Homo sapiens: one gene and its partner. The protein of the gene in region 1 interacts with the protein of each later gene in a biochemical or structural test. Each region holds a gene or a part of one and is shown in the gene's direction. Other genes may lie near its edges. The genes, in order: NRG2 and ERBB4.

Region 1 (11,712 bases):
GAACTTAAGTAGCTAGGCCAAAATGTCAGTCAAGCAAACTGGCAGAGCTGGAATTCAGACGTAGGTAGTTTGACTCCAGAGCCTTCACTCTTAGCAAGTTACTCTGTGTCCAGGTACTGTGTGAAACATTTCACATGAATTATCTCACTTAATCCTTACACAACTTCTAAGAAGTAGATATTTTATTGGGGGCCCCTCCCAATAAAGGAAATCAGAGAAATTAGAGACCTCTTAGATGATAATGAAAGTGACACTAAGAGACTGCCTCTTACCCAGAGAGCTGTGACGGTGCTGTGCATGAGGACGTGCTTTGGCAATGGACAAGCTTGGATTAGAGTCCCAGCTGTGTCTGTCATTTGGACAAGTTATTAAACCTCTATACATTTTCCATTTGTAAAATACAAAGTAGTTAAGGCTCAGAAATGAAAAGACTTAAAAAGGTGAAGTGGCCAGACATGGTGGCTCACGCCTGTAATCCCAGCACTTTGGGAGGCTGAGGTGGGGGGATCATGAGGTCAGGAGTTCAAGACCAGCCCGAACAAAATGGTGAAACCCTGTCTCTACTAAAAACACAAAAATTAGCCGGGCGTGGTGGCACGTGCCTGTAATTCCAGCTACTCAGGAGGCTGAGGCAGGAGAATCGGTTGTACCTGGGAGGCAGAGGTTGCACTGAGCTGAGATCGCGCCACTGCACTCCAGCCTGGGTGACTGAGCGAGACTCTGTCTCAAAAAACAAACAAACAAACAAACAAAAAAGTGAAGTAACTTATCCAAGCTCACGTTCCAGTAGAGGTGGAGTCAGGCTTTTGAAAAGTAGACAAAAGAGAACTGGGCCAGGGGTCAGGAAATGAGGGCTGTTCCTGCCGCCAACTAGGCTGTGTGACCTTGAGCAAATCAAATAATCTCCATGGTCTCTGTGCCTTCCTCTGTAAAAGAAGGACATCAGGCTACATTGATACTAAAACCTTTCCCAGTGCTAACATTCTGACTCTCAATATCTGTTTTCTGTTTAGTCCCTTGTTTGAAAATCCTTGGAGGAAAAGAAATTAACCACAGAACCTGAAAGTGACTCTGGAAGCCAAATTTAGAAAACAGATCTCAAAAGGAGAAAAAATAAGTTTTCAAAATTTCTTTATTTAGGAAGCGAGACTGCCCTGCAAAGTGTTTGGCTTGATTTGTGAGACTCAGTGACCAGATAAAGGCCATACAGATCTCCTTGACTAGCCAGTTCTCCTAGCTGCAGTAAGCCATGTAACCTGGTTCAGTGGCTCTTTCTGGCCTGCTATCCTGGCTAAAGCTGGAAGAAGCCCATCCTGTGTGGGAGGGATCTGAGAAAAGAAGCCAAGCTTTTCATGTGGGTGTTCTATCTTGAATTCAGAATGTCTATACCATTCTGTCTACTTCTGTTTTTGTTCTTAGTGATTATTATATAGTGACACAGCCCACTGCTACCATGAACCAGTTTTTTTCACAACCTTGTGGTAAGCCACGGTATAGTGAACAGGTCTGGCTTCCATTTCTCTATGTGGTTCTATTCAAAAGTGTGAGCTTGAGTTTGTGATAAATCTTGGCAAAAAGATATCCATAGCTTTGTGATCTTGGGAAAGTCACTTAAATTCTCCGTCTGTCGATTTTCCTCATGTTTTTGTAAAATAATGCTTATCCCACGTGCTCTTCGGTGTTATGAATTTCAAATAGTGTATATGTGGAAGTAGTCTGAGGAAATTAGAGACCTCTTAGATGACAATGAAAGTGATGCTGGCTGGGCGCGGTGGCCCACGCCTGTAATTCCAGCACTTTGGGAGGACGAGGCGGGTGGATCACTTGAGGTCGGGAGTTCGAAACCAGCCTGGCCAACATGATGGAACCCCGTTTCTACAAAAAATACAAAAATTAGCTAGGAGTGGTGGTGGGCCCCTGTAGTCCCAGCTACTTGGGAGGCTGAGGCAGAATTGCTTGAACCTGGGAAGCAGAGGTTGCAGTGAGCCGAGACTGAAGAAGTGAGACTCTGTTAAAAAAAAAAAAAGGAAGAAAGAAAGTGATGCTAAGAGAAGACTGTCTCTTACAGAGAGCTGTGACGGTGCTGTGCGTGAGGAAGTGCTTTGGCAATGAGCAAGCTTGGATTACAGTCTCAACTGTGTCTGTCATTTGGGCAAGTTATTAAACCACTATGAATTTTCAATTTGAAAAATTCAAAGTAGATAAGACACAGAAATAATAAACACAAAGCTTCCAACAACAAGCCATTAATAGATGATGCCTATTATTATTTTTATTGTCAGTTATTGAATTACAGTGCAGAGTTAGCAGGTTTGGAATACTAGGTCTTATTTTCTAAGTCATACATACTAATTCACTGTGAACTTCAGGAAAAAGCCAGTATAAAATTGGGCTGTCCTTCTAGGAAACCAAATACCCTAAATGGCTGAGGCCAATTTCGGAAGCTTATCCTCACATACATCACACCTTGAGGAAATCTGGACAGGCACCTTCCTCCCCTTTATCTTTTTTTTTTTTTCCTTTTTGTGGAGAATGGGGTCTCGCTATATTGTCCAGGCAGGTCTTGAACTCCTGGGGTCAAGCTACCCTCCCACCTCTGTCTCCCTAAGAGTTGGGATTACAGGCATGAGCCACTGCACCTGGCCCTTTCTTCCCTTTAGAAAACTCTGCCTAACTCTCCACTTTCTATGGCTGCAGGAATTCTGGTAATCTGCTGGAGTCTCAAAATTTACCTCGGCATTCTAAGTTTATCTGAACAGGATATAATTATAGCAAAATAATTCCCTATGCTTTTTAGCATAAGAATCCCATTTTAAGGTAAAAAGAGTTTTACCCCATATAATAGTAGTTCCCATTATATAGAATATTCTTTCTGTTTATAGAATCCTATATAATAGTAGTTCTACTTTAAGTAGACTTTGAGAAAAACACATGATAAAAATTCAGCAACATTAACAAATTAGAGGATCCCCTCTTAAAATTTTTTTGAATAGCTAGTACATGAACTTGATATAAAATTCACGAGGTACAAAAGGAAATACCATGAAAATATCCTTCTTTCACCCCATCCCTCATTCACACACTGCCCTTCTCCAGAGCCTCCTATTGTTTCAACTTCTGCTGTATCTTTTCAAAGGTAAATTTGCACTACAAACATTTACATATTTCATCTTAAAAAAAGACAAAATGGTAGCATCTTACCACTCTTCTTCATCTTGCTTTTTTTCACTTAGCAATATCTTGTTATATTTTGTTGTACTTTAACATGGATATGTTGAAAAAAAAAGGTGGGGAGCAGGTGTGGTGGTTCACACCTGTAATCCCAGCACTTTGGGAGGCCAAGGCAGGAGGATTGCTTGAGCCCAGGAGTTGGAGACCAGTCTGGGCAAGGCCCTATCTCTACCAAAAAAAAAAAAAGTAATAATAAAGAAAAGAAAAGAAAAGAAAAGAAAACTAGCTGGGTGTGGTGGCATGTGCCCGTAGTCCCAGCTACTTAGGAGGATCACTTGAACCCAGGAGGTCGAGGCTGCAGTGAGCCATGATGGCCCCACTGCACTCCAGCCTGGGCAACAGAGCCAGATCGTGTCTCAAAAGAAAAAGAGAGTCCGGGCGTCGTGGCTCACGCCTGTAATCCCGGCACTTTGGGAGGCTGAGGCAGGCAGATCACCTGAAGTCAGGAGTTCGAGGCTGCTCTGGCCAACGTGGCGAAACCCAGTCTCTACTAAAAATACAAAAATTAGCCAGGCGTGGTAGTGCGTGCCTGTAGTCCCAGCTACTCGGGAGGCTGAGGCAGGAGAATTGCTTAAACCTGGGAGGCAGAAGTTGCAGTGAGCTGAGATCACACCACCGCACTCCAGCCTAGGGGACGGAGACTCTGTCTCAAAGAAAAAAAAAAAAAAAAAAAAGAGGCCGGGCTCAATGGCTCACACCTATAATCCCAGCACTTTGGGAGGCCAAGGCAGGCAGATCACCTGAGGTCGGGAGTTCAAGACCAGCCTGACCAACATGGAGAAACCCCGTCTCTACTAAAAATACAAAAAATTAGCCAGGCGTGGTGGCAGGCACCTGTAATCCCAGCTACTTGGGAGGCTGAGGCAGGATAATCACTTGAACCCGGGAGGTGGAGGTTGCAGTGAGCCAAGATCACACCATTGCACTCCAGCATGGGCAACAAGACCAAAACTCTGTCTCAAAAAAAAAAAAATAAGAGAGAGAGGGGAAAATAATATTTTTATTCTTCATGACATGTGCTGTTGAAAAATTGTATCGCCTTTTTTTTTTTTTTTTTTTTGAGACAGTGCTCTGTTGCCCAGGCTGGAGTGTAGTGTCATGAGGCTCACTGCAACCTCTGCCTCCTGGGTTCTAGCATTTCTCCTGTGTCAGCCTCCCAAGTAGCTGGGATTATAGGGGAGCGCCACCACGCCTGGCTAATTTTTTTTTTGGTAGTAGTAAAGATGGGGTTTCACCATGTTGGCCAGGTTAGTCTTGAACTCCTGACCTCAAGTGATCCACCCCACTCAGCCTACCAAAGTGCTAAGATTACAGGCATGAGCCACTGCACCCAGCCGCATTTTTTAATATACAGAAAATCCTAGTGAATATTTTTAATATACAGAAAATAAATACCACTTAGAGATTCTCAGCTCTTAGATTGGGAACCACCAGTATAAGTAAAATATTAGTAATCTTCAACTTTAATTTTGGCCCTTACTGTGCACCAGACATTGTTCTAAGCACTTTACATATTATCTCACATAATCCACATCCTCATCATCCTTCTAGTCTCAGCTTAAATGTTATCTCCTCAGAGAAGCCTTCCCTTATCCAAGTAGACCTATCCTCTCCCCTTTCCATTATTCTCTAGCATTTCATCCTGTTTATTTCCTTCAGGACACTCAGCAATACAAGTAATTAGTTACCCATTTGTGTACTTATTTACTGTTGTCTTCCCAGTCAGAGTATGAGCTTTGAGAGCACAGACATGTACTATTGAACAGTTTGGTTCACCACAGTACATCCAGTAACATACAGTGCCTCAGTGCTTGGCACAGAGGAGCCATTCAATTGAATATTTATTGAAAGTACATACTGAGCAAAAAACAGCTTTACGAAGTAGACCCTATTATTTTCTCCTTCATACTGATAAGGAAACTAAGGCCTAGAGAGTGAAATAGACTCATCCCAAAGTTGGTAAGTCACAGAGTTGCTTTAAAACCCAGCTCTGCTGGGCTCCAGAGCACAAGCTCTTCACTATGACCCTGGTCTCAGGAACAGAAGACTGAGTTCAGTCCTGGCTGTGTGAAATGTTGAGTAAGTCCCCTATCCCCTCTGGGACTTTTTCTTTCATTGTAAAATGAAAGAGTGGATGTCGCTATCTTCCTTATGGTGATGTTTTGTGATTTATGAGGTCTGTGATCTATGAAAATGAAATGGGGGACACTGAAGGAGCCAAGAAGATTGGCTTGATGCCTTTAAGCGTGCCGATTTTCAGTTATTTTCTTCCTTCTCTCCTTCTTTCACTGGAGATTTGCTAATCCTTATTTTATGCCAGGCATTGTGTTGGAGGTAATAGGAATCCAAAGATGAATAGGATATATATAGTCCCTGACATTAACGTGCCTGGCCTGATGGGAGATGCAGACCCATTAAATGGCTGCTTGAAATACGGTATGGGCCAGTATCCCAACAGTAATACTATGTGTGAAGCTCATGGCAATACAGAGGAGGAAGGGATTAATTCCATCATGTATGTGTTGGTGGGAGTAGAGGTGGATATGTAGGAAGGGGGATGCGGTATAATGCTGAGCTGGGCCTTGGGAAAATAAGTTTTCCATGTGGTCAAGGTGGAGGTGAGGCTTTCTGGACACAAGAGACATCATGTGCAGAAGCACACCAAGAAAGAGCATGAAGTGCTGAGGATTGCTAGAGTGGGGGGTTGGCTCTCAGGATATGAAGCTGGCTAGGCAAAGGGAGCCCATGAAGAGCCTTGCTGAGGAGTTTGAACTTAACTTCTGAGAGCAGTAGCATGGCCAAATTGTACTTACATTTTATTTTTAGAAGGATCACTCTGGCATTGGTAGGACTGGAGATAGGTGATGAGGTGAAAGGAGTGGAGACCAGTTAGAAGGCTTAGAAGTTGTCCAGGTGAGAGATGATGAGGGCTTGGACTTAAGGTATTTGCAGCAGAGTTGGAGTGGAAGTAGATAAATTGGAGATTATTTTAAAAGAGAGACCCAAAGGCCTTGGTGATTAATTGGATGAGGAAGAATAAAAGATGAGATGAAGGGACTTATTGTAATGGATTGATGTAGTCTAAAAGAATAAAACAGTGGCATTAATAATTATAGGGGATTTGGAGTGAAGTGGAAGAAATAATGATGTTGGCTTTGGATGTATTGAGTTTAAGATGTCTCTTAGCTAGGAGGAAAGGTGTAGCTCTCTCTACTTCCTTTCCAGAATAGCAGTCCTAGCCTAAGTCACTCATCCTTGGACCAGTTTCCTGTGGAGCCCAGTGCGGTATAAAATTCCCCAAGAGCTCACTGGCATTCCTGAGCTCCACATCCTTCAAGGTTAAAAGCTGGGTGTTGAAAACTCCCTGGACCCTCATTGATAGGCTAATGGATTATGGACCTGTGTGTGTGTGTGTGTGTGTGTGTGTGTGTTTTAAATCAGATGCTGGCTCCAGTGCAGCAAACTCTTCTGCCTCTTGCAAGCATCAGCCTTGGAAACAAAACAAAACAAAACAAAAAAAACCTTTTTTATGGAGCAGCCTCTGGCCCTGACAGGCTCTGGCTCTCTGTTGGCTCCCAAGAAGCCCCCCACCTTTCTTAGAGATCAGATTTTTAAAAGATGAGGTTGTACAGTGCTCAGCCAGATCCCCACGTGGCCGCTGAAGAAAGCCCAGAGTGTTGGGGACTGGGCCCTTTCTCAGCTACCACCTCTGCTTGGGTGTCCTCAATGCTAAGACAAGACACCTTGTGGCCCAACTCTTTCCAAAATGACGGGGCTGGGATTCTCCCCCACCTCAAGTCGAATATCCAGCGTTCACCAGGCGGTGGCAGGACCGAGCACGTGGTATCATTTAGGGGCTGGGCTCCAGGGTCCTCCTAGGAAAGAGGACAGCCCAAGAGGCGAGAGGCTGGCCGGCCACCCTGGCCATGGCAACCTCTCTGGCTCCTACAGCTGCTGGCCAAAGGCAGGGGGCACGCCCTGCGTCCCATTACCACGTTCATAGGATGGTGCCAGGAGCCCGTTATCTCTTCTTCGCCTTCTCCTCACGCACCACCCCCACTGTCATGCCGATAAATCCCGGGAGCAAAGGGTGGCACGATTCCTCCCGCGCCCCTGCGGGCTGAAGGCGGGCACTAAAGCAGTGCAGTCCCAAGCTTCCCCTGCAGAAGCCGCGCTCCCTACTCGGTCCGGGGGCAGAGGGGGCGCGAGAGAGCAAGTGGGCGGGCGTCCCATCCTCCGCATCCTCCTCCAGGTCCTGGCGCACAGGGTGGGAGCGCTGCGCTGCGCCGCGCTGCGCATCGCGGCCCGCTTGCCGCCTGCCCCCTGCCCTAGCTGGGCCACCTCCCCGGGCTGCCGGTGGAGGGCTAAGAGGCGCTAACGTTACGCTGTTTCCGGTTTTCCAGCGGGCTCTGTTTCCCCTCCCAAGGCGGCGGCGGCTGAGCGGCGGAGCCCCCCAAATGGCCTGGCCAGATGCGGCAGGTTTGCTGCTCAGCGCTGCCGCCGCCGCCACTGGAGAAGGGTCGGTGCAGCAGCTACAGCGACAGCAGCAGCAGCAGCAGCGAGAGGAGCAGCAGCAGCAGCAGCAGCAGCAGCGAGAGCGGCAGCAGCAGCAGGAGCAGCAGCAACAACAGCAGCATCTCTCGTCCCGCTGCGCCCCCAGAGCCGCGGCCGCAGCAACAGCCGCAGCCCCGCAGCCCCGCAGCCCGGAGAGCCGCCGCCCGTTCGCGAGCCGCAGCCGCCGGCGGCATGAGGCGCGACCCGGCCCCCGGCTTCTCCATGCTGCTCTTCGGTGTGTCGCTCGCCTGCTACTCGCCCAGCCTCAAGTCAGTGCAGGACCAGGCGTACAAGGCACCCGTGGTGGTGGAGGGCAAGGTACAGGGGCTGGTCCCAGCCGGCGGCTCCAGCTCCAACAGCACCCGAGAGCCGCCCGCCTCGGGTCGGGTGGCGTTGGTAAAGGTGCTGGACAAGTGGCCGCTCCGGAGCGGGGGGCTGCAGCGCGAGCAGGTGATCAGCGTGGGCTCCTGTGTGCCGCTCGAAAGGAACCAGCGCTACATCTTTTTCCTGGAGCCCACGGAACAGCCCTTAGTCTTTAAGACGGCCTTTGCCCCCCTCGATACCAACGGCAAAAATCTCAAGAAAGAGGTGGGCAAGATCCTGTGCACTGACTGCGGTGAGTCGCCCCCTCCCTTTGCTGGAGAAAGGGGGGAGGGGCGAGGTGGTGGAGAATGGGGGTGGGGCGGGGAGGTGCTGCAGGTGCCCGGGCCTGGCAGCGTCCGGGCGCTGGGGGGGTGGGGCCGCCCCTGGGCAGGGCGCCTGGCACGGGTGGGTGAGGGGGTTGGGGTTGGAGAGAAGAAGGATCAGGCTCAAAGTGTGCCAGGGGTGGGGGGCGGAGGGAGGCGCTGGCCTGTGCCAGCGGGGATCTGCGGCTGATGTATGGCATGTGGGGCTGGAAAGCTGCCATCATAGCCCAGTAGCGGAAGGAAAAACGGAGAGGTCCTGGCGGTGCTGGCCTGAGGCTCAGTGAGTCAGGAGTGACCCTCGGAGGCCTTGCCTGCCCTGCTGCCGCGGGCCTGCCGTGCCCAGGCTGGCAGGGTCTGCGGGAGCAGCTGGGCAGACTCCCAGGCTGTGAAGGCCTCCGCTTACAAGTTCTCCTAGGGAATGGTCGCCCCCGCCCCCTCCTTCCTCTCCTGGGCTCGTTGCTCTGCTCATCCACACCGCTGGCGCAGGCAGAGTTGGACTTTTTCTGCTACTGTTTTCCGTCCTCCATGTGGCTCCAGTTTTTTTCTTCATCGTGATTGCCTGTCTTTGCTAAGCAGGTAGCACATCCTTCTCTTAAGACTAGCAAGCAGACACCTTTTTTTTTTTTTTTTTTTAGCTGTTTCTGGGGGAATTACAAGGTCTGTTGATTGTGATGATGATGAAAGAGAGTAACTTCTGCTGAATGCTTTAAGTTCAGCTCTAACGTCTTACTCGCCGGATGTATTTGACTGCATCTCTCATCTTCATGATGTTGGATGCTGCACAGGAATGCAGGTGATTAGAAACAAAACACTGAAATCTGTAGATCTCTGCAGCTGGGAATGGAAGTCTCCCATGTCAAAAGTCAAAGAAATGTCAGTCTAAGAGCTTTTTCTTCTTGTCCCTGAATCCAGTACTTACTTCTTAGTAAGATATTTCAAATCAAATTGTCCCACACTGGAGTATTTGGTGTAAGCCTGTCTCGTGCTTATTCAAATTGAGGTTTCGTTTTGTCCCAACTAAAGCTGAATTTGTTGGCATGCGGTATGACTTGCTGGACTGTGTAATCGCTGAATTATGATAGATGTCCTGTACTCTCATAGAAGTTGGTATGTTTACCAGTTTTACCAACTGATTCTGGGTAGTGTAGACAGGCTTTGTTTGAGTAGCAAAATATGTGTAACAGCTTATAGTAAGTTTTGCTGCCTTCATCTTTCTAGATCGATACCTATGATTTTTGGAAGCTTTCCTCCCCCACCCCCTTCAGGAGGCAAATTTTAGGAGTTTAGTGATGGGAGTATATCTAGACACTAACTATGTTAAACTGTGATCACTTTAATGAGAAGAATCTTGGCAATGTCTTAATAAGGAGGGGAAAACTTTGGGGGATAACAGCAGTTTATCGCTCTGACATTATCCTTAGGAATATTGTTGACTGCTTTTTATTATTGGTTTTATGTTCTGAAATGTTTTATAAAGACAAGTAGAGACCAGCTAAGAATTTCTAATTTTTTATTCTATTAAGTATTTTGATACTTGGGGAGTATTAAAATACTCTGAGATGCCTTGGGGAGCTGTGAAACAGTATTGTACAGTGGAAAATAGATAGTAAAAATATTTATTGAATCTTGTCCAAGGACAGCTTCTGTTTGGTTGTTGGTGAGTTGCTCCTGCATTTGCACAGTGTACATCTCCACATAATCCCTAGTCTGGGCCGCTGAGGACTTGATGGTCTTTGTCAGATAACCCCATAGAGTAACTGGCTTCTCTGCTCCCTTGTCTCCCTCCTCCTACTTTCTCCTTCCCCCAACACAATACACCTTATCAATTACACATTGTTTGTTCTAGTGGGTATTCAGTAGCTTAACAGTTGAATGCAGAAATCATGAAAGATTTGAGGGGCAGAAATATGGTCTGTTTCTAGGTTATGATCATCTCATATTATCAAAATAGCATGTGTAGTATAGTTCTTAAAAAGATACATTTAGAACTGCAATCACTGGTAAAGGAAGGGCCCTCACATATCACAAATTATCAAGGATCAGGAATGTGTATGGCAGTAAACATTTTAGAATGCAAAAAAAAATTGCTTTGAATTGATATTCAAAGGGAAGTATATAAATAGGTACCATTTTGGGGAGCCTTATATAAGGGGATTAGAAATTAAAGGACATATTTGTGAGACTTGTGGAATTGGTGATAATATAACAGAAGAGCATAAACTGCATTTTCTTGTTTTCTACTATGTGGTTAAAGAAAACATGTACTGGTAATGCTATATTAAATAAGGAAACAAAATCATCCTAACTAACCACAACACTGTCCTTGTGCTTAGCAGGAAATAACTAACAAATTCATTTTCTGTTTTCTATTCTAAAGAAAGCCCTCTGGGCCACAGGGTCATTGGGAACATTTTCTCCTTGGAGCAGATTTGCCCATTGCAAAATAGGGAAACTGGCACTTGGAAACTGTCGTCATGGCCGTTACATTGAGCAACTGAGGTTGCATTGTTGCTTTGTTTAGCTAGTTTCAGGTCTGAGTGTGTGTAGGTTCTGAGAGGTGTGGTTCTCTGGGAAGTCACCTAGAAAGCCCGTGGGTTTTTTTTTGGAGGGGGGCAAAATATGGAGGGATAATATTGTGTTTAAAAATTGGCCTCAGGAGCATCAATGCAGGAGGTCACACTGGACCTCTTCTTATCAGTCCTCATAAATGGCTCGTTTCCACCATGAAATGTTGACTTGAAGTCTGTGATCTAAGGTGGGGAAAGGTAGACAGGGGTCTTTCTGGAAGAGCAAGACCTGCCAGAGTGATATTTTTACATATCTAATGTGTATCATTTATCCAGAAAGAGTACATCTGGTGATAGAGTTGAGTAAAATCTTTGCATTTCTTAGAAGATTGCATTGTATGGAGGGAGGTGTTTTCTGTGCCTTCTGTGGAAAGGCGAGGAAAAAGAGTTAGAAAGGCCTTGCAGGGATTAGCAATTCTGTACAATGTTATAAAAACATCATGTTCTGCAAATAGTCCTGCATTTTAAAAGATGGTTGCATATATTTTGGTATAATTACACCCTATCTTGTTGTTTTCTTATATTCATGTTTTTAAGCAGTTTCCTTATTGAATAGATGCAGTAAATAGCATAAAAAATGAAGATCATTTCTTTCTTTGGGATTTCCTGATTAGCAGTTTTCCAGTGTATAGTGTACTTTGTTGCTACAAGGAAAGGTGTATTCCTAAGGATTT
Region 2 (9,440 bases), on another chromosome or scaffold:
TATACTTCGTAAGAAGGAATGCGAGTAAGGATTGGCTTGAATTCCATGGAATTTCTAGTATGAGACTATTTATATGAAGTAGAAGGTAACTCTTTGCACATAAATTGGTATAATAAAAAGAAAAACACAAACATTCAAAGCTTAGGGATAGGTCCTTGGGTCAAAAGTTGTAAATAAATGTGAAACATCTTCTCATGCAATTATTTTATTATCCAACACACTAATCTTTTGATACTTTATATAATTCCCTTTCTTCATATACTGCATCCAGTACTAGAACCATCATTATTATGTATCATTTTGAAAGAATACCTGATGAGATGAAGGATGAGAACAAATGACAGAGATGAGTCTCCAAGTAAAGGGGGCCTCACATCAATAATTAGGAAACTTAGATATAAGTCGCCCTTTTCTGAAAATTCTACCCCAAGTCATTTAGATTTTTAAAAAATATTTCTAATGTTAAAATATTGGGACCAAATTAGAATCAATAGTATAAGATTAATTAATTAGAGTAAAAATATCTATTAAGGCAGAGAAAGTTTAGAGAAAAAAATCCAAAGAAATTTGTGTTTCTTCCTATTCTGAACAAGTAAATCCATCCATCCATCCATCCAAACCTCCTTTATCTAACTGTGTCTACTAAAAGCACCATGTTTTGTGGGGAACACTCAGATAAATGGAATATCATCCTCAACTTCAAAATTCTATGATCTAGGAGATTTAATTAAAATGACATTTTAATTTTTCTATGCGTTCCAACAATCAGATTGCATAGTCTCTTTTGTGAATAGCTGTCATATAATCAGTTGTACTGTAAGATATCTCCTTTAAACTCATTTGGGATATAAGTTAAACATCCTTCAAATTGTTGATGTTGACAAACAGGATAATTTCAATAATATTATTCAAACATAAACTGGTCTAGGAGAATATTGCATCACTGACTAATTAGCCTATCTAGAGTCTAACTTCACCATTAAACCAAAAGCAGATGGTGGTCCTTGGCCAAGAATATTGGAGACATTGGAGTTGGTTTTTTTCTAAGCTATAAGAAGTGAGGCGAGCTGAAAAAGTATGGTAGAGCAGGAGAAGGGTTTGTGAGATTCCTTCTAGTGAAGTTCACCCTCAAACTTTTCAGGGGTAAAGACACAGAGTGATTCAGGGGCCACAATCTAATAGCTCAGGGCTCTCCTATCCATTCAGAGAAGTCTCTAGGAAAAGGGATCTCATATCAGTACTTATGAAAAATTGAATATAAGCCTCCCTTTCTAAATAAATCTGCATCGAGTCATCACAGCCCTCTTTTTGGATACTATACCTTGATTTTTTTTTTCTGATTTACAATATGCATATGGTTTCTACTGGGCTATAGAAAGCAGAATCACTCATTTTGGAGAAGGAAAAAATGAATAGTTAAAACAAACTTTTAACTGTTAAGGTAACAGAAATGTATTTAGTGAATGTCTCTTTCCTCCTAAGAACACAAGACTTCTACATGTTGGGTAATACCTAGAGATGCATGTAGGAATAATCCAAAATGACCCAAATGCTTTATAATAGCACCACTTTATAATTCTTTTGAATGATTTCTGTAGTATATAATTGACTTCAGTTGTTTGAGTGTTTTTTGTTTTATTTTTGTCCCCCCTGGGAAAACATATTTCAGCATGTATAAGAGGGAGAAAAAAAGTTTCATTCCTTCCAGAGAATAACTTATTTAGTCCAGTAGGGTAGAATTTTAAAATGTCAGTTAAAGTCTTCAAAGTGCTTGGGGGGATATCAGATTCCAGAGGCCAATTGTAGCAATTGAAATTTGCAGAATCAATTATGTAAATCTGAGACAAATTAGTATTAAAATTACACGGAGTATATTTTTTAAATCACCCAACTTTGTAGATTATACCTATTTTGGGCAGGTATGGAAAAATTTTGCAGTTAAATGATTGCCTAAAGAAAGTGGTAAACAGGTGAGGAAAGATGGCCTCTGATCTAGGATAGATCCAGAACCACAAAGCATCTGCACCACAAAAGGTGTTAGACTACCAAGCAGCTCCTGGTTTTCTGCATAGTATTAGTAGCACAGCTTAGGATGAGAATCCTTTCTCCAGTAACATTCTTAAAATAGCATGAAAAACAACGCAAAACTCAAATTTCTATTAAAACACACAAACTAAAATCAAGTGATTCTTTTTTGTAGATTAGGGAGAAGGACTGAATATCTAATTTAAGAGAAGGAATAGTGTTTAAGTGTTATAGTGTGTGAGCTAATACCTTCTAAAGGAAAGACATGGCATGAAGATTGTGCATACTTACAATGCTAAGGAAAAATCAAGAAAAGGACTGTGTGAGGCTCTGCTACTAGATGAAGTTGGAAGGACTATTAATGTGCTTCTTGAAGTATCAAAAATGAAAAGAAAATTAAAATTGTTTAAGCCTGACAGGGAAGGATGTAAATACAAGTTTTTCTAGAGCTCTCTAACCTTTATTTCAAAACTGGAATTATTCATCCATCTGTAATTGTTGATAATTTAACTAGTATATGTAGTTCATAAGGTAATAGAAAAGGTGATCATGAAAGCATGTATATAACTGGACAGAACCACGATAATGCTATAAGATGTAGATTTAGTTAGGTTATCAGATGTTAAATGATTTTAATATTATTAAATAAATCAAACTAGAAAACTAACCACAAGTATAATGTAACAAAGTTAAATGCAGGATATAAAAATGTAGGATGGATTTTGCATAGTAAAAAGATAAGTTTGCCATTTAAAATTGTTGTTTGTTGGGTTTAGCTGAAAGTAGGCATATATGGTTCCACTTGGGAAAACTTGCTTTAAAGCATTACAATGAACAATTTTTTCTCATTCTCTTATTCCTTTATCACTTTTTAAATGTAAAGAAAATTGTATTTATTTATTTTTTTAAATAAACACCACCTTGCAGAATTTAATAGGCAAACATGTTACATATGACTAAGTAAGGGTCTTCAAGATGAAGTAAAGAAAATGTAAATGTTCTATTACCTTATGCAGAGACAAAAAAAAAAAGGAGTGGTGTCATTTAGCTAGCAAACAAACAAAATACAGTTAATTGGTGATATGTCCTTTCTTTTCTCACTATGCCCTCTTGCCTCCAAAAATGACAACAAAGAATCACAATTTTTCTGATAAATAAATGCTAAACCAAGCGTTTCAAACTATTGCATTGCCATTCTTTTGGACTTTAGTTATTAGAATGATGATTGTTATAGGGCAAATGAGAAATCCATGTGCATCAGCTTCTAGTTGTTAAAAAAACCAGATAAATTAACTTCTACTGTATACTGTGGGCAGAGGATCCTAGAGCTGATCCTACAACATCAGCTTCTAGTTGTTAAAAAAAAAAAAAGAAACAGATAAATTAACTTCTACTGTATATACTGTGGGCAGAGGATCTTACTGTGCCTCTGTTTGTGTACATGGACTTCGGTGTGTATCAGTTTGAAGGACAGCCTTGCCCCATGTAAACATATAAATGCAGATTGGTATCGCCTGGTTGCTATTTGCTTAAGAACAAATATTATACAGATGAGATCAGGCATAATTTTAAAAGATCATTATCAGTGGAGACCTCATTATTACTGATATTACAATGGGGCCAGTTTTTATACTTCTGGGTAGAATTAATAAAATTTTTCTGATCCCAGAGATCTGAGTTCTCTCTGCAGTTGGAAACAAGAAGCTGTTGTGGGCATTGTGTCGGGCCAGGGGCCCTTGTGTTTGTGTGGGCAAATATCTTTTAGCAGTGTGAGCTGCTTTTTTCTTTTCATTAAAAGTCTCTCTAAAATAATAGAAATTTCAGATACTCGGTTCAAGTCTCACTGATTTTGTAGAGGTCCAAAAATGTAGGATCTGTCACTTTTGCAGGCCCCTGCCTCACCTAATTCCTGGCCAGGTGACATTTTGGGCAGAAGTAAATGCTTCTATAGTCACAAGCTAAAATGACTCTAAGCCCCAATTTCACGGGGGGTATTCACATGCTTCCTCTGGAAAATACTCTTTGACAGTCAGCTTTGCAAGTAAGTGATTACCTTGTTAGGAATCAAAGAAAAATGTATTTCTCTCTGACCTTTAGAGGAAAATAGAATCCTTCCCTTTTTTGCCCATTGACACAACTGGCACTGCTCTCTTCCCTTTCTACCACCCTGGTTCAAAGTAGTCCCCCGATGCTGTCCTGTTCCTTTCTTAAGCCATAGTGGATCTCTGAGATCCTACACCCCACTTTGTGAAACACTGACTTCATCTTTGCCCTCGAATGCCTGATTTTTTCATAAGAGATTCTAGCAATTTGGACACTGTTTAAGTGAACTATCAAACTACCGCATAGAGAATATTTAAGCTATTAAAATTATGGTTTCCCATGAAGATCAATTCTCTGTGTCCTTCCCTATAGGAATTTGAGACGAGTTAGCCCTGTGATGAATCTTGAAACTCACATATGTCCACATACACTTGGTAGAACTTCGATTTAATCTTTACATAAAAGCTGTACATATAACCAAGAAGTTATTTTTGCCAGTAAATTAACTTATTTGCTTTATTCATCTTATTTGGTTCCTAATCGTAAATATTTTGTAGCTGCTGTAAATTTTTTTCTCCCAAATGAGGAGTCTTATTATCATAAAGGTAAAGGCTATTCAGCTTTGATAACCACCTGCAATTCTTTTTTGGATCATTCATCCATCTAACAAATACATAATGAGGACAGTTCATGTTAATGAAAATCCATGTTGTTTAATAGAATGCCATCCTTTACCTACTTTTGCTCTTTATGGACGTTTTTCTTTTCATGCTCTAGTGAGCTTTCCCTATATCATGAGAAGTGGTTATATTTGTGCAAATATACAAATATAGGAAAACAAAGATTCATACCTGTAGGCAATAGTCTAACTTGTCCAAACCACTTTGCCTTTACTGCTATTTTTATCCCCAATGCGTAGATATTTCCCCCAGGCCTATAGCCTTTGTGAAGGAAAGCAAATCATACCTCCTGTATATTGACACGAATCTGGTTTTCAAATGTCATTTCCAGATTTTTTAGTTAATTGGGGGTTGTCCTTTTCCCTTAATGTGAGAGTCATTTTCCTGTATATTTCTGGATCTCTCAGGGGCTGGGAGGGGGGAGTGAGGGGACTACAACCATAGCACTCCAAGAACCCTTTTGGGATTACTCCAGTAATCAACTACGAAAGTTATTTTCTAAATGTAGATATGTAAGGTGTTCTTTTAAAGTAAGGTACTTTGAAATATGTAGCATAAACTGGTACTGCTGTTAAATGGGTCGATTATTAAACGGAGCAGCTGTGTGAGGGCAGCTAACTTTGAATGCCTGTCTCCCTGGCTGGTGTGTCTCCTTCTCATGTTGAGAGCACCAGGGATTGCGTGGCTGCATGCTGAAACCGCATTTTCCCATGGTGTATGACTAGTTCATCTCTTTCTTGAGCACCATTACAAGAAGATCAAATGAAAATGAGATCAATGTGGAAGACAATTCATAGCACAAAAAAAGTCATCTTAAATCTACTCTCAAACATTCATCTTATACATGCATCAAAGTAATTTACTGACATCAGTTTGGGTGAGAGAGGGAGTCACTTTACTGAAAAGGCAGAGGCTTAAGGTGTATACATTTGTACTCACTTCCTTATTTTCTTAACTTGTAAGCAGAAAACAAGCCCTCTCTCTTGTGAAGTATCTTCAAAGGATTGGGGTGCAAAAATACCTTGCTGGTAAGCCATCAATGTTTTATTTAAATCCCTGCATTCAAAGTTAGCTGCCTTTTTGAAATAAACAAACAAAAAATACTACTGTATGTTTGAAAATGTGAATAGTATTTTTATAGCTTGTTAAAGACATGGCTAGTTGCATTTGTAAATAAGTATAATGTTGCTTTGATTTTCTTTTGTGGACATCTTTATTTGGAACATAATTGTCTTTAGGGTTGATTTGTATATAAGTAATTGGCCTGTGATTGTTTCTTTTTTGGTTGGAAGTTATCATTTTGACATTACTTGTGATTCTGTGTTCAGCACTATTGTGATGTGTTCAACCTCTGCACTCGCTTACACAATAGGATATGCCAATTGTGTGTGGTGTAATGTTATTTTGATTTTTTTCCATGTTATTGATGAAGGATCATGCACCTAACACATACTAACTTTTTTAATGTTAGGCATATTTTTAGTATACTTTCTCTTATTCTTTCTTCTCCTCCAACCTTTTACCCATCCTCCTTCCTTTCCCTCATTCCTGTTGTTATTTGAGAATGAGGGAGAAACAGTATTTTACATTTATGTAATTAGGCTTTTCCGTTAGTTCTCAAGGATCCTCTTTTGGCTCTTGGGAAAGAATTGTACCTGTACAAGGCAATTATAGAATGCGAACTGCTTTGCCTCATTCCATACTGATCATCCCAGCTGAACAATTTGAAAACTGTTCTGCCTTTTTGTTACATGAATCTGTCAGAAATATATTTTTAATTTAATATAAATGAAATTCAATAAAATATGAAACAAACGTTCTCTTTTGTGTCAGAAATTTGTTATTAGATAAGCCAACTAGCAGAGAGGAAGATTTGTTCTAGGTTTAATAATGTGAAGATATAAAAATGGGCTTATTTTGCCCATATTTATGCAGCTCATTAGTTATTCCTCAGAACTCTTTGGTGTTTGGGATGTGATATGTTCCATATGTTTTTACCATCCACTGCATATGCCCATTGATGTGTACAGACTTACTCATCTGTGCATGCTATGCTTAATTAACTCTGGTTGGTTTGTTTCTCTGAGAATAAAAAAATATATAAAATATTTTGTAGGTTGCATCCAAACGACATTAATATTTTTATATACTTTTTTTCTTTCTGCCCTCATTGCAGTTTATAAAATGGATCCTGGCAATCCTTGGCTATAAAGAATATCAGATGTTACTACTGTCCTTGAGGTGGGGGAGGGAGAATAAGACCTTAAATAGTCAATCAGCTGACTAGTGACTTATGACAAGCCCACATAACAGTGTGAGAGTGACTTCAGAGACATTGGTGACATGAACAAGATCCTCTCTCAACATTTTCTTATTATATAACTTTTTGATTTTAAACATCATTGATTACTCCATGCCTCCAAAGTGTAAGAATTTCAAAATTCCAATAACTTCTGATTAGAGATTCTGTTATTCTTTGAAACTACTGTGGTTATTTGACTGTATAGAATGATGACTGAGTCAGTGGACAAAAAATATATTTTCAGCCTAATATATTGGAGTAAATTTTCTTAAACCTGTTCAATTGTGGAGCTTCAAAGATCTTGTTAATAACACCTGCTATTTGCATGGACCTGCACACATACCCTCCCTTATATATTATGGCCCTTTCATCTGAAATCATTGTGATTTCATAGTGTTCAGGGTAAGATATGTCAGGGCACTATGCATTTTAAACAACTATAAACTGAGAAGGGAGGAGAAACAACTTGTGTTCCTAATGCTTTAAGGTACAATTGAAATTTCCAGTGGCACCATGCTGCTAGCTTATAGCAGTTATACTACTTACTAATTACATAGTGCTTTATAAAATTCTTCATATGTTGGTTCATTTGGCTTACTGCACCCTTTTGAGGTAAGTATTATTAGAATAATCCTAGTCACCCATATAAGGAAAATAAAACTGAAATAACAAGTGTAAACTAGAATCATACAACCATTAGTAAGTGATGGTACTCACTCTCAAAGCTTCATATTCTGACTTAAATATCTTTCTTTAATTAGTTACCACTTTTCTTTCTTCCTCTGATAAGGAGTAACCACCTTCTGATGAAAGCATGCATAAAGCTGACACACTGATGAAGGTCAAGACCTTCAATGGTCTTTTATTAGTTTTTTGACAACCGCTCTTGTGATGCAATTAAAAACCTTATTCCACATCCTCAAACTATCTGGGAGCAACTTATCTATAATGGAGGATGAGGTTTCTTTCATTCTAGAAAGATTAAGTGCAACATAATCACAAGTAAAATAATTGAAACAACAACAAAACCACCACCATGTGGAGAGCCTACTGATGGTGTGCCCTGCCCAAGGTGTTAGAAATCTGCTTGGTAAGGCACCCACTTCTCCCCCACATATATCAGAGAATATTGCAGATAACTACACTTATCTCTAGCAGTGTTATTGCATATATTAGTGTTAATAGAGGAGAAACTTCATATAAAATGCCTAATTTATAAATAAGTTGGTAAATTTTCTAGCGTTTATTATAGGCTAAGTGGTCACTGGAAACTTCTAAAATACTCACAATGTAGAATCTGATCCTGATCCAATGTCAAAGCTTCATTTAAAATGACGATGATGAGAGGAAGAAATTATAGAAAAGCTGTGAGGTATATAAAGCGGTATAGAAGAGCTTCTAACAAGGCTAAAATGAACGTCACAATTCTGACTCTAGCTACTCTCTCCTGCTTTATAGTCTTAAAATCCTGAATTCACAATTGCTTAATTTAAAAAGCCCCTATGGGGAGACACATATATGCAGCCATACATATATGTACAGAATATATAGAGATGTAGTAGATATACATATACAGAACATATAAAGAGATGTAAAATATTTAAAGATATATTGATATATTGCAGAACTTCATACAAAATCTCTATTTTCAAGAACTTCTATCACAAGCCCCATAATGTATATCATACTACAAGATGGACTCATAAAACTATAAACTGAGCAGGTGCGTAGTTAGCTAATTGTATTTCCCTCCACAGTGTTATCAAGCTGCATGATAAGCCATGGGGAGCAAAGCCACTAGACAACCATCTGAAGATTAGAAACAGAAGACTGTCACCCAGATAGCAATTTTGAAGCTATAAACAGAACAATTCACCACAAGATAGCAATCAGGAGACTGTAAATCAAATGGTACACAGGAGACATGTGAATGAATATTGGAATACTGCTCTTGTAGGTTACCCGTAGGTTTTCAAAAGACAAATACCCATCTTGCAAAATATTTGACCTGTTTCTACTTACTTATCTTTCCAAGACAAGTAGAGAGCTCTAAAAAAATAATATAATCAGTTTTCTGCCTCTTTTAGAAACAGAAGAACAAAGCTTCCAGGCATTAAAGACTTATCCCATTAGCTGCCCACTGACTCCTATTGCAAGAGGCAGATACATAGCACAAAGTATCCTGATCAGAACTTAATGCCTCAATTCAGTTATCTTAAGCATCATCTTTTCTATATCATCTTTGTTCATGTATTTAGGGATTTATACAATCACCCTGCTATTACTTAGTATGGAACTATCATATTTGTGTGGATTTATAGCCATCACGACAACAACATTAAGATAATAGTAGACACTGATTGGATGCTTGCCGCATGCTGGCTTTCTGT

Evidence for each region.
Region 2: the proteins of NRG2 (region 1) and ERBB4 form a complex in vitro, tested with the Homo sapiens proteins (2 studies listed by BioGRID).

The regions. Positions count from the first base shown.
Region 1 is NC_000005.10:140,039,059-140,050,770, reverse strand, and holds the start of NRG2 (pro-neuregulin-2, membrane-bound isoform), read left to right. Parts: upstream 1-7,471; 5' UTR 7,472-7,701; coding exon 7,702-8,401; intron 8,402-11,712. UniProt on the Homo sapiens protein: Direct ligand for ERBB3 and ERBB4 tyrosine kinase receptors. Concomitantly recruits ERBB1 and ERBB2 coreceptors, resulting in ligand-stimulated tyrosine phosphorylation and activation of the ERBB receptors.
Region 2 is NC_000002.12:211,372,844-211,382,283, reverse strand, and holds the end of ERBB4 (receptor tyrosine-protein kinase erbB-4 isoform JM-a/CYT-1 precursor), read left to right. Parts: 3' UTR 1-6,567; downstream 6,568-9,440. UniProt on the Homo sapiens protein: Tyrosine-protein kinase that plays an essential role as cell surface receptor for neuregulins and EGF family members and regulates development of the heart, the central nervous system and the mammary gland, gene transcription, cell proliferation, differentiation, migration and apoptosis.